Regions from separate parts of the Homo sapiens genome. Here all the other regions are linked to region 1. Evidence: fine-mapped expression QTL. A gene starts in region 1. Each other region holds a variant in brackets. All regions are shown on one strand. Distances are from middle to middle.

Evidence for each region.
Region 2: its variant is fine-mapped to the expression of FSTL3 in T cells (TOPMed, PIP 0.90).
Region 3: its variant is fine-mapped to the expression of FSTL3 in whole blood (INTERVAL, PIP 0.94).

Annotation. Positions count from the first base shown.
Region 1 is chr19:675,178-677,928 of GRCh38, forward strand. It overlaps FSTL3 (follistatin like 3), which reads left to right and starts at 1,215. Exons shown (of 5, transcript NM_005860.3): 1 at 1,215-1,349; 2 at 2,615-2,751. The coding sequence starts at 1,247.
Region 2 is chr19:773,349-776,099 of GRCh38, forward strand. No RefSeq gene overlaps it. Among named protein-coding and RNA genes, the nearest start is that of LINC01836, 8.1 kb to the right of the region's middle. The variant A/G (reference allele first, on the strand shown) is at 1,410.
Region 3 is chr19:640,651-643,401 of GRCh38, forward strand. It overlaps FGF22 (fibroblast growth factor 22), which reads left to right. Exons shown (of 3, transcript NM_020637.2): 2 at 2,585-2,688. Among named protein-coding and RNA genes, the nearest start is that of FGF22, 2.1 kb to the left of the region's middle. The variant C/T (reference allele first, on the strand shown) is at 1,170.

The DNA.
Region 1 (2,751 bases):
TATTTTCCTGAAAGCATTTACCACTCCTTGAAGTTATAGATTAATTTGTCTCTGCATTTTGTTGTCCAAACCAGGAGCTCGGTGAGGGTGTGATGGGGTCTGCCTTGGTCACCGTGGCACCCCAGCACCCCGCAGGGTCCCTCTGGCCAAAAGAGATGTTCACTGATGCCCTAGAAGCAGGAACAGAGGGGCTCCCCTGCGCTCGCCAAGGGCGCCTGACAAATCTGGAGGCCCCCATGACAGAATCAGCTCCAGAGTAGGAAATGTGTCTGGCTGCACGAAAGCCCCCTCGGGCGCAGCGCCTCCAGGCCCACGCAGATGTCGCTGTCATACATTGTTGGAAACGCCTCTGCTGGAAACAGTGTTTGCTGAATCTTGGAGGGAGAGGAAAAAACCTAGTAAACATTCTTGTTGAGGTGATCTGGGGGAATGTCTGCAAAGGCTTGGAGGGCTGATGGGGCAGAGCTGCCCAGGGGCCCAGGACAAAGGCCAGGCGTGCGCGCGCACACACACACACACACACACACACACACGCAGTGGCCTCCCTGGGGGCCGTGGCTGGGCGAGGCCTGCTGTTGTCCGAGATGCTGGAAGGAGCTGTGTCTCTGGGTCTGTCCCGGCCGCACCCCGTTCTGTCCCACACCCAACCACTCCCCACCCACAGGCCGGCTCCAGCGGCCAGGTGGACGGGTGCGCGGCCCGCGCTGTGAGCAGGGAACCATATCCAGCTGAGGTTTTGGGTGTGTGGGGCGGGTCGGGAACAAGGAGGCCGGGTTGGGGGGCTCAGACCACACTTGGACCATGAAAGTGACCACATGCAAATCACAGAAACGGGATGCAGGGATCCACAGACGTGCTCCTCTTGGGTCCCCGTTACCTCACCGCCACCCCTGAAACTGAAGACCCCCAAACCCACTTTAATTCCTGGAGACGGCCCCTCGATCCACCCAAAAGGCTGCCACCACCTCGAACCCACACCCCTGTCCCGGTTCCGCCCTGGGTCCAGCCACATCTCCCCAAATGCATTCTCTGGCTCCGGAAGGGGACCCGGGCGCTCGCCCCCAACTGCCCCCCGCAGCGGCCGGGCCCGGCGCCTGCCCACCCCGCGCGGGACACGGCCTCGCCCCCGCCACTCCCGCGCCGCGCCCCGCCCCGCGCCCCGCCCCGCCCGCGGCCCGCGGGACCTTTATAGGGAGCGCCGGCCGCGCGCTGGGAAGTCGGTGCCGCTGCCGTCTCTGCGTTCGCCATGCGTCCCGGGGCGCCAGGGCCACTCTGGCCTCTGCCCTGGGGGGCCCTGGCTTGGGCCGTGGGCTTCGTGAGCTCCATGGGCTCGGGGAACCCCGCGCCCGGTGAGTGGGGCGGCCAGAGGGGCGGGCGGGGCGGGCCACCCACGTGGGGCTGCGCGGAATGCGGCCGGGGGGACGTCGGGGGGCGCGGCGGCGGCGGCGGGGGCGAGGGCGGTGTCCGGCGCAAGCTGGAGCCGGGAAGGTCTGAAGGAGGGTCACCAAGAGGTCAGCAGAGCAGAGGTTTCTAATCACAATGACCGCTGACATTTATTGAGCGCTTAGTGTCTACCTCTCCCCTCCCTGAACCTGTGCCATCCCGATAGTGCCGGAGCTCTCTTCATCTCCGTCTTCCAGATGGGGAAACTGAGGCTCAGGGTCACACAGCCTGTAGCAGGCAAAGCCAGGGTTCTAGCCGCGACCGTCCGGGTCGGTCCTGGTGCCGAGAGGTAGTGCTGGGTGTCGGGAGCCAGGCCCTCCAGCTGGGGCTGAGAGCTTTCCCGGGTCCTGGGTAGACGGGGCATGGAGTCTCACACCTGGGACTTGCCGGGAGGTGCCAGGCAGGAGACGGCCCCACTCCTGGCCTCAGTTTCCCCTCCTATGATGGGTGCCAAGGTGCTGCGTTCCACAAGCTGGTCCCTGGCAGTGTCTGTGAACCAGCAAGCGCTCTGGGATGGGGGCTGTGGCCGTTCCTGCCCCCAGGGACGGGGGAAGAAATGGGGGGCTCTCTGGCTCCCCACCCCCCATCCCTGCAGCCCCACCCCACCCCAGCCCTGCGCCAAAGGGAGAGCAGAGCCCCCTCCCCGAAGGCCACGTCCCTGGGGAGACAGTGAGCTCATGCAAGGGGAATGTTCCCAAGTTGGAGTGAGTAAGAGGCGGGCCAGGCGGTGGGGGGGCTGCCAGGCGCGGGGCTCCGCGTGCCCTCGCCCTCGGGTGCTGTCTAGACAGAGGGCAGAGGCGGGAGAAGCGGCTCCAGGGCCTGCTGACCCTGACATGCCCAGTGCCTGGTGTTTGGTGGTGTTTGAGGGGTTGGGCAGGGTGCCAGCCCCTGGCCTGGGGGCTTGGAGGGTACGGGAAGGGACCTCCTGGGGTGGGTGGGGGTTGGTGGTGAGGCTGTGGGGGGGGGCACGTGGAGCTCAGAGGGGAGGAGACATTTCCAGGGTTCTGGAGCCAGGGTGGGGACACCCATGTGGTTTTCTGCCCCTTCTTCCTGGGTGGGGGTAGATCATTCCGTGCGTAACTACTCAGCACCACCTGCATGCATCTGTGGGCGGGCCAGAAGCTGGGTGTCAGGAGTGGCCCAGGAGAGCACCCCGTTCCCCGGCCCGCAGGTGGTGTTTGCTGGCTCCAGCAGGGCCAGGAGGCCACCTGCAGCCTGGTGCTCCAGACTGATGTCACCCGGGCCGAGTGCTGTGCCTCCGGCAACATTGACACCGCCTGGTCCAACCTCACCCACCCGGGGAACAAG
Region 2 (2,751 bases), 98 kb after region 1:
CCTGGATGCAGGTTAGAGCTCAGGCTGTCCCCTGATGGCCTCGGTGCTATGGGTGAGTTTCTCCACCTCTCTGTGCTCAGCCTCTCACCGGAGAGGGGGTGGGTGATCCTGGCCTGAGTAGGTGACCAAGGCATCCTCCTCTGTGGCTGGTATTTCCCAACACCCTCAATAAATTCACAGGTGGCTCAGGCCTGTAATCCCAGCACTTTGGGAGGCCAAGGCAGGCAGATCACCTGAGGTGAGCAGTTTGAGACCAGCCTGGCCAACATGGTGAAACCTTGTCTCTACTAAAAATACAAAAATTAGGGCCGGGTGCCATGGCACATGCCTGTAGTCCCAGCTACTCGGGAGGCTGAGGCAGGAGAATCGCTTGAACCCGGGAGGCGGAGGTTGCAGTGAGCCAAGATTGTACCACTTCACTCCAGCCTCAGCAATAAGAGCAAAACTCCATCTCAAAACAAAATAAAAAATAAGGGCGCAGTGGCTCATGCCTGTAATCCCAACACTTTGGGAGGCCAAGGCAGGCGGATCACAAGGTCAGGAGATTGAGACCATCCTGACCAACATGGTGAAACCTCGTCTCTACTAAAATACAAAAAATTAGCTGGGCATGGTGACGGGCGCCTGTAATCCCAGCTACTCAGGAGGCTGAGGCAGGGGAATCGCTTGAACCTGGGAGGCAGAGGTTGCAGTGAGCCGAGATCCTGCCACTGCACTCCAGCCTGGGTGACAGAGCGAGACTCCATCTCAAAAAAAAAAAAAAAAACAAAAACAAATTGGTTTGTTTATTTTCCTGTTGATTTGTGGGAGTTCTTTATATATTCTGGACCTGAGTCCTTGATTACATTATGCACTGCTAGCTAGTACCTTCTCCCAGTCTGGCACTTTCCTTTTGAGTCTTCTTCTTTTTTTTTTTTTTTTTTTTTTTTTCTGAGGCGCCTGCCACCACACCCGGCTAATTTTTGTATTTTTAGTAGATACGGGGTTTCACCATGTTGGCCAGGCTGGTCTTGAACTCCTGACCTCATGATCCACCCGCCTCGGCCTCCCAAAGTGCTGGGATTACAGGCATGAGCCACAGTGCCTGGCCCCTTTTGAGTCTCTTAATGGTGTCTTTGGACAAACTCATTTGTTCAAAATAAAATGCAATTTTTTTTTTTTTAGATGGAGTCTCACTCTATCACCCAGGTTAGAATGCAGTGGGACAATCTCTCCCAGGCTCAAGCGTCTCTTCTGCCTCGGCCTCCTGAGTAGCTGGGATTACAGGTGGGTGCCACCACGCCCAGCTAATTTTGTGTATGTTTAGTAGAGACCAGGTTTCACCATGTTGGCCAGGCTGGTCTTGAACTCCTAACTTCGAGATCCGCCTGCCTTGGCATCCCAAAGTTCTGGGATTACAGGCATGAGCC[A/G]CTGTGCCTGGCCATGTTAGGATATTTCTTTTTTTCTTTTCTTTTCTTTTCTTTTTTTTTTTTTTTGAGAGTCTCGCTCTGTCACCCAGGCTGGAGTGCAGCGGAGCCATCTCGGCTCACTACAAGCTCCGCCTCCCAGGTTCATGCCATCTCCTGCCTCAGCCTCCCAAGTAGCTGGAATTACAGGTGCCCACCACCACGCCCAGCTAATTTTTTGTATTTTTAGTAGAGACGGGGTTTCACCGTGTTACCCAGGATGGTCTTGATCTCCTGACCTCATGATCCGCCCGCCTTGGTCCCCTAAAGTGCTGGGATTACAGGCGTGAGCCACCGCGCCCGGCCCATGTTAGGATATTTCTGAGCAAATCTGAGGGTTTGGCCTGGAACCCTCAATTTGAGGTTGCAAACCCTGTTTCCTGCTAAGCCAGACAGATGGTGCTGGAGATGGGGAGGCCATGGTTTATGTTTTGTCCACTCTGGGTGCTGCCTGGACAGGTGACTCATGCATGTGGCGGAGCAGTCCAGAGTGAGGACTGTACCCCTACAGACACTCCCCCAGACCATGCTGGTGGCCTGAGCTGGGGGCTGCCCAAGTCCCCTCCCCGGGATCCACTTCTGGGGCCTCCCAAGCCTTCCCTGGGGTCAGTGAGTGCTGGAAGGGCAGCCAGCAGTGTGTGTCCACGGGGGGGGGCGGGTCACCACTTATCTGGGCATTAAATATTTGGGGGGGTCTCAAAATAATGGAAAACAGGGGGCCAGAAGTGGTGGCTCATGCCTGTAATCCCAACACTTTGGGAGGCCGCAGTGGGAAGATCGCCTGAGGTAAGGAGTTCAAGATCAGCCTGGGAAACATAGCAAAACCCTGTAATGAAAAACCCAAAAATTAGCCCGGCGTGGTGGCAGGTGCCTGTGATCCCAGCTACTCGGGAGGCCGAGGCGGGAGGACTGTTTGAGCCCAGGAGGTTGAGGCTGCAGTGAGCTATGATTGCACCACTGCTCTCCAGCCTGGACAACAGAACGACCCACTTTCTCAAATAAATAAATAAATAAATACGCTGAGGCCAGGCGCGGTGGCTCACGCCTGTCATCCCAGCACTTTGGGAGGCCGAGGTGGGCGGATCACGAGGTCAGGAGATTGAGACCATCCTGGCTAACATGGTGAAACCCCCGTCTCTACTAAAAATACAAAAATTAGCCAGGCGTGGTTGCGGGCACCTGTAGTCCCAGCTACTCGGGAGGCTGAGGCTGGAGAATCTCTTGAACCCGGGAGGCTAAGGTTGCAGTGAGCCCGAGATCACACCACTGCACTCCAGCCTGGGTGACAGAGTGAGACTCTGCCTCA
Region 3 (2,751 bases), 35 kb before region 1:
GGACGTCACGGAGCGGGCGTCTCTGTCCCCAGGGTCTGCCGAGCACACTGAGGTAGGCCCTCAGTGTTTGTGGAATGTCAGGAGCAAGAGGAGAGGCTGGGCACAGCAGGGGATGTGGGTACCTGGAGGCCAGGGGAGTCGGTGTCCCCGCCGGGCGGGGGGCACTGGGAAGGGGGCCCGGGCCCGCTGGCTGCCGCCTGAATCACCACCATCAGGGCAGGTAATCACCCCCTGTCCTTCCCACCGCTTTCATCTGGGCGCCAAGGCCCTCATTAGGCCGCACGTGACGAGGGCGGACAGGGGACTGGCTGGGCCGGTCCATCCATGGCGGGCATGGCCAGGCGGGGTGGCCTCGGGCCGGGGCAGAGGCCTGGCTCCGCTGCCTGACCTGGAACAGTCTCTGCCTCTCTCCAAGCCTCGGTTTCCCCAGCTGGACGGTGATGGGGGTGAGGGCTAGCTGAGGGCTCTCCTGCCCTTCGTGCATTCGCTGGTCACTAATCGGGCACCTTGTGGGTGCTGTGCTCCGCATGGGGGACCCAGTGGTGACAGAGACGCCCACCCTCCTGGGGCTCCCAGAGCAGAGGCGCGCAGCAGTTAGACACGTGAACAAGGGCGCAGGTGGGTGCACAGAACAGTGAACGGTTGGCCGGGTGCAGTGGCTCACGTCGGTAATCCCAGCACTTTGGGAGGCCGAGGCGGGCAGATCACGAGGTCAGGAGATCGAGACCATCCCGGCTAACACGGTGAAACCCCGTCTCTACCAAAAATACAAAAATTAGCCGGGTGTGGTGGCGGGCGCCTGTAGTCCCAGCTACTCGGGAGGCTGAGGCAGGAGAATGACGTGAAGCCGGGAGGTGGAGCTTGCAGTGAGCTGAGATCGCGCCACTGCCCTCCACCCTGGGCGACAGAGCGAGACTCCGTCTCAAAAAAAAAAAAAAAAAAAGAACAGTGAATGACGTGAACAAGGGTGCAGGTGGGTGCGCAGAACAGTGAACGGCGGTGTTGGGAGGCACCTTGCCAGGGGAGGGGAGGTGCAGGGCGAGGAAGGGGCCAGGGGAGATCGTGACACAGACGCCCCAGAACAACCACCTCAAAGACGTTCCTGTGTGTCCTGGAAGGTCGGGCTGGGAGGCTGCCCCGAGGAGCTTTCACTTTGACAGGGAGCTGGC[C/T]GGGCACGCAGGGAACTGTACACCCAGCTGACAAAGCGGCAGACACCCAGGCCGGGGTGAGCGAGTGTGGGTGAGGAGTGGCGGCTGGCCCCAGGGTCCTTGCTGGACAAGACACTTCAGCTCAGGGTGGGGCAGGGCTCACCCAGGGCTACCCACAGACGATGGCGTCCAAATCTGGCTCTGCCACTCCCAGGCCTCAACTGGCCCCTCTGCAACGTGGGCTGCTGAGCGGGCTTGGTAGGACAGCTGGCATACAGTCGGCGCTCAAGCATGTCTGTGGTGTCCCATAAACCACCGGTGTCCCACTCTAGGCCACTGCCAGCCCGGCCTCCAGTCCAGAGTCCCAGTCCGGAGTCCCAGTGACTGTGCGTGGGCCGGGCAGCTGAGCTGTGAGGGCCGGGCTGGGGGCTCCATATGGGGTGGTGTGAGCTGTGAGGGCCGGGCTGGGGGCTCCATATGGGGTGGTGTGAGCTGTGAGGGCCGGGCTGGGGGCTCCATATGGGGTGGTGTGAGCTGTGAGGGCCGGGCTGGGGGCTCCATATGGGGTGGTGTGAGCTGTGAGGGCCGGGCTGGGGGGTCCCTGGGGTGGTGTGAGCTGTGAGGGCCGGGCTGGGGGGTCTCTGGGGTGGTGTGAGCTGTGAGGGCCGGGCTGGGGGCTCCATATGGGGTGGTGTGAGCTGTGAGGGCCGGGCTGGGGGCTCCATATGGGGTGGTGTGAGCTGTGAGGGCCGGGCTGGGGGGTCCCTGGGGTGGTGTGAGCTGTGAGGGCCGGGCTGGGGGCTCCCTGGGGTGGTGTGAGCTCTGAGGGCCGGGCTGGGGGGTCTCTGGGGTGGTGTGAGCTGTGAGGGCCGGGCTGGGGGCTCCATATGGGGTGGTGTGAGCTCTGAGGGCCGGGCTGGGGGCTCCCTGGGGTGCTGCTGGTCGCTGGCTCATTGACAGTTATCAGTGGTCTGGGTGGGCCCTGCCCCTTCTGACTCCCACATCCCAGGAACCCTTTCCCAACCTTCCTCGTGGTGTTGCTGCCCCCCTGACGTCCGTCCCTCTGGGTGTGTGGGAGCCCCCCCGCCATACACACACACAGATGCTGCTCTTGGGCTGAGCTGCAGGGACAGCGCTGACCTGGCCCTCCCACGGGGTCCTCATCGATCTCTGCACTCCCCCAGCTCGTGGGGGCCGTCCTGCTTCCCGTTCCCTCTGCCTGCTCCTTGCTCCTCCCTCACATGCTGGGGGGGGCTCCTGGTGTCAGTCACGGCTCTGGGGGATCCTGAGTGTCCGTCGTGGTCGGGAGGGGACTCGTGGTCCCGGGGGTCTCCTGGTATCTGTCGTGGTCCTGAGGGCCCTGCACGAAGCACAGCGGACAGCAGCGGTGCTGGGGGTGAGCCAGCAAGGCCCTCCCCGACCCCCGCCTCCCCCAGGCATCCTGGAGATCCGCTCTGTACACGTGGGCGTCGTGGTCATCAAAGCAGTGTCCTCAGGCTTCTACGTGGCCATGAACCGCCGGGGCCGCCTCTACGGGTCGGTGAGTGCCGGGCAGGGCTGGGCGGCGCGGGCAGGGTGGGGAGGGTGGGCCGGCCTCACCCCC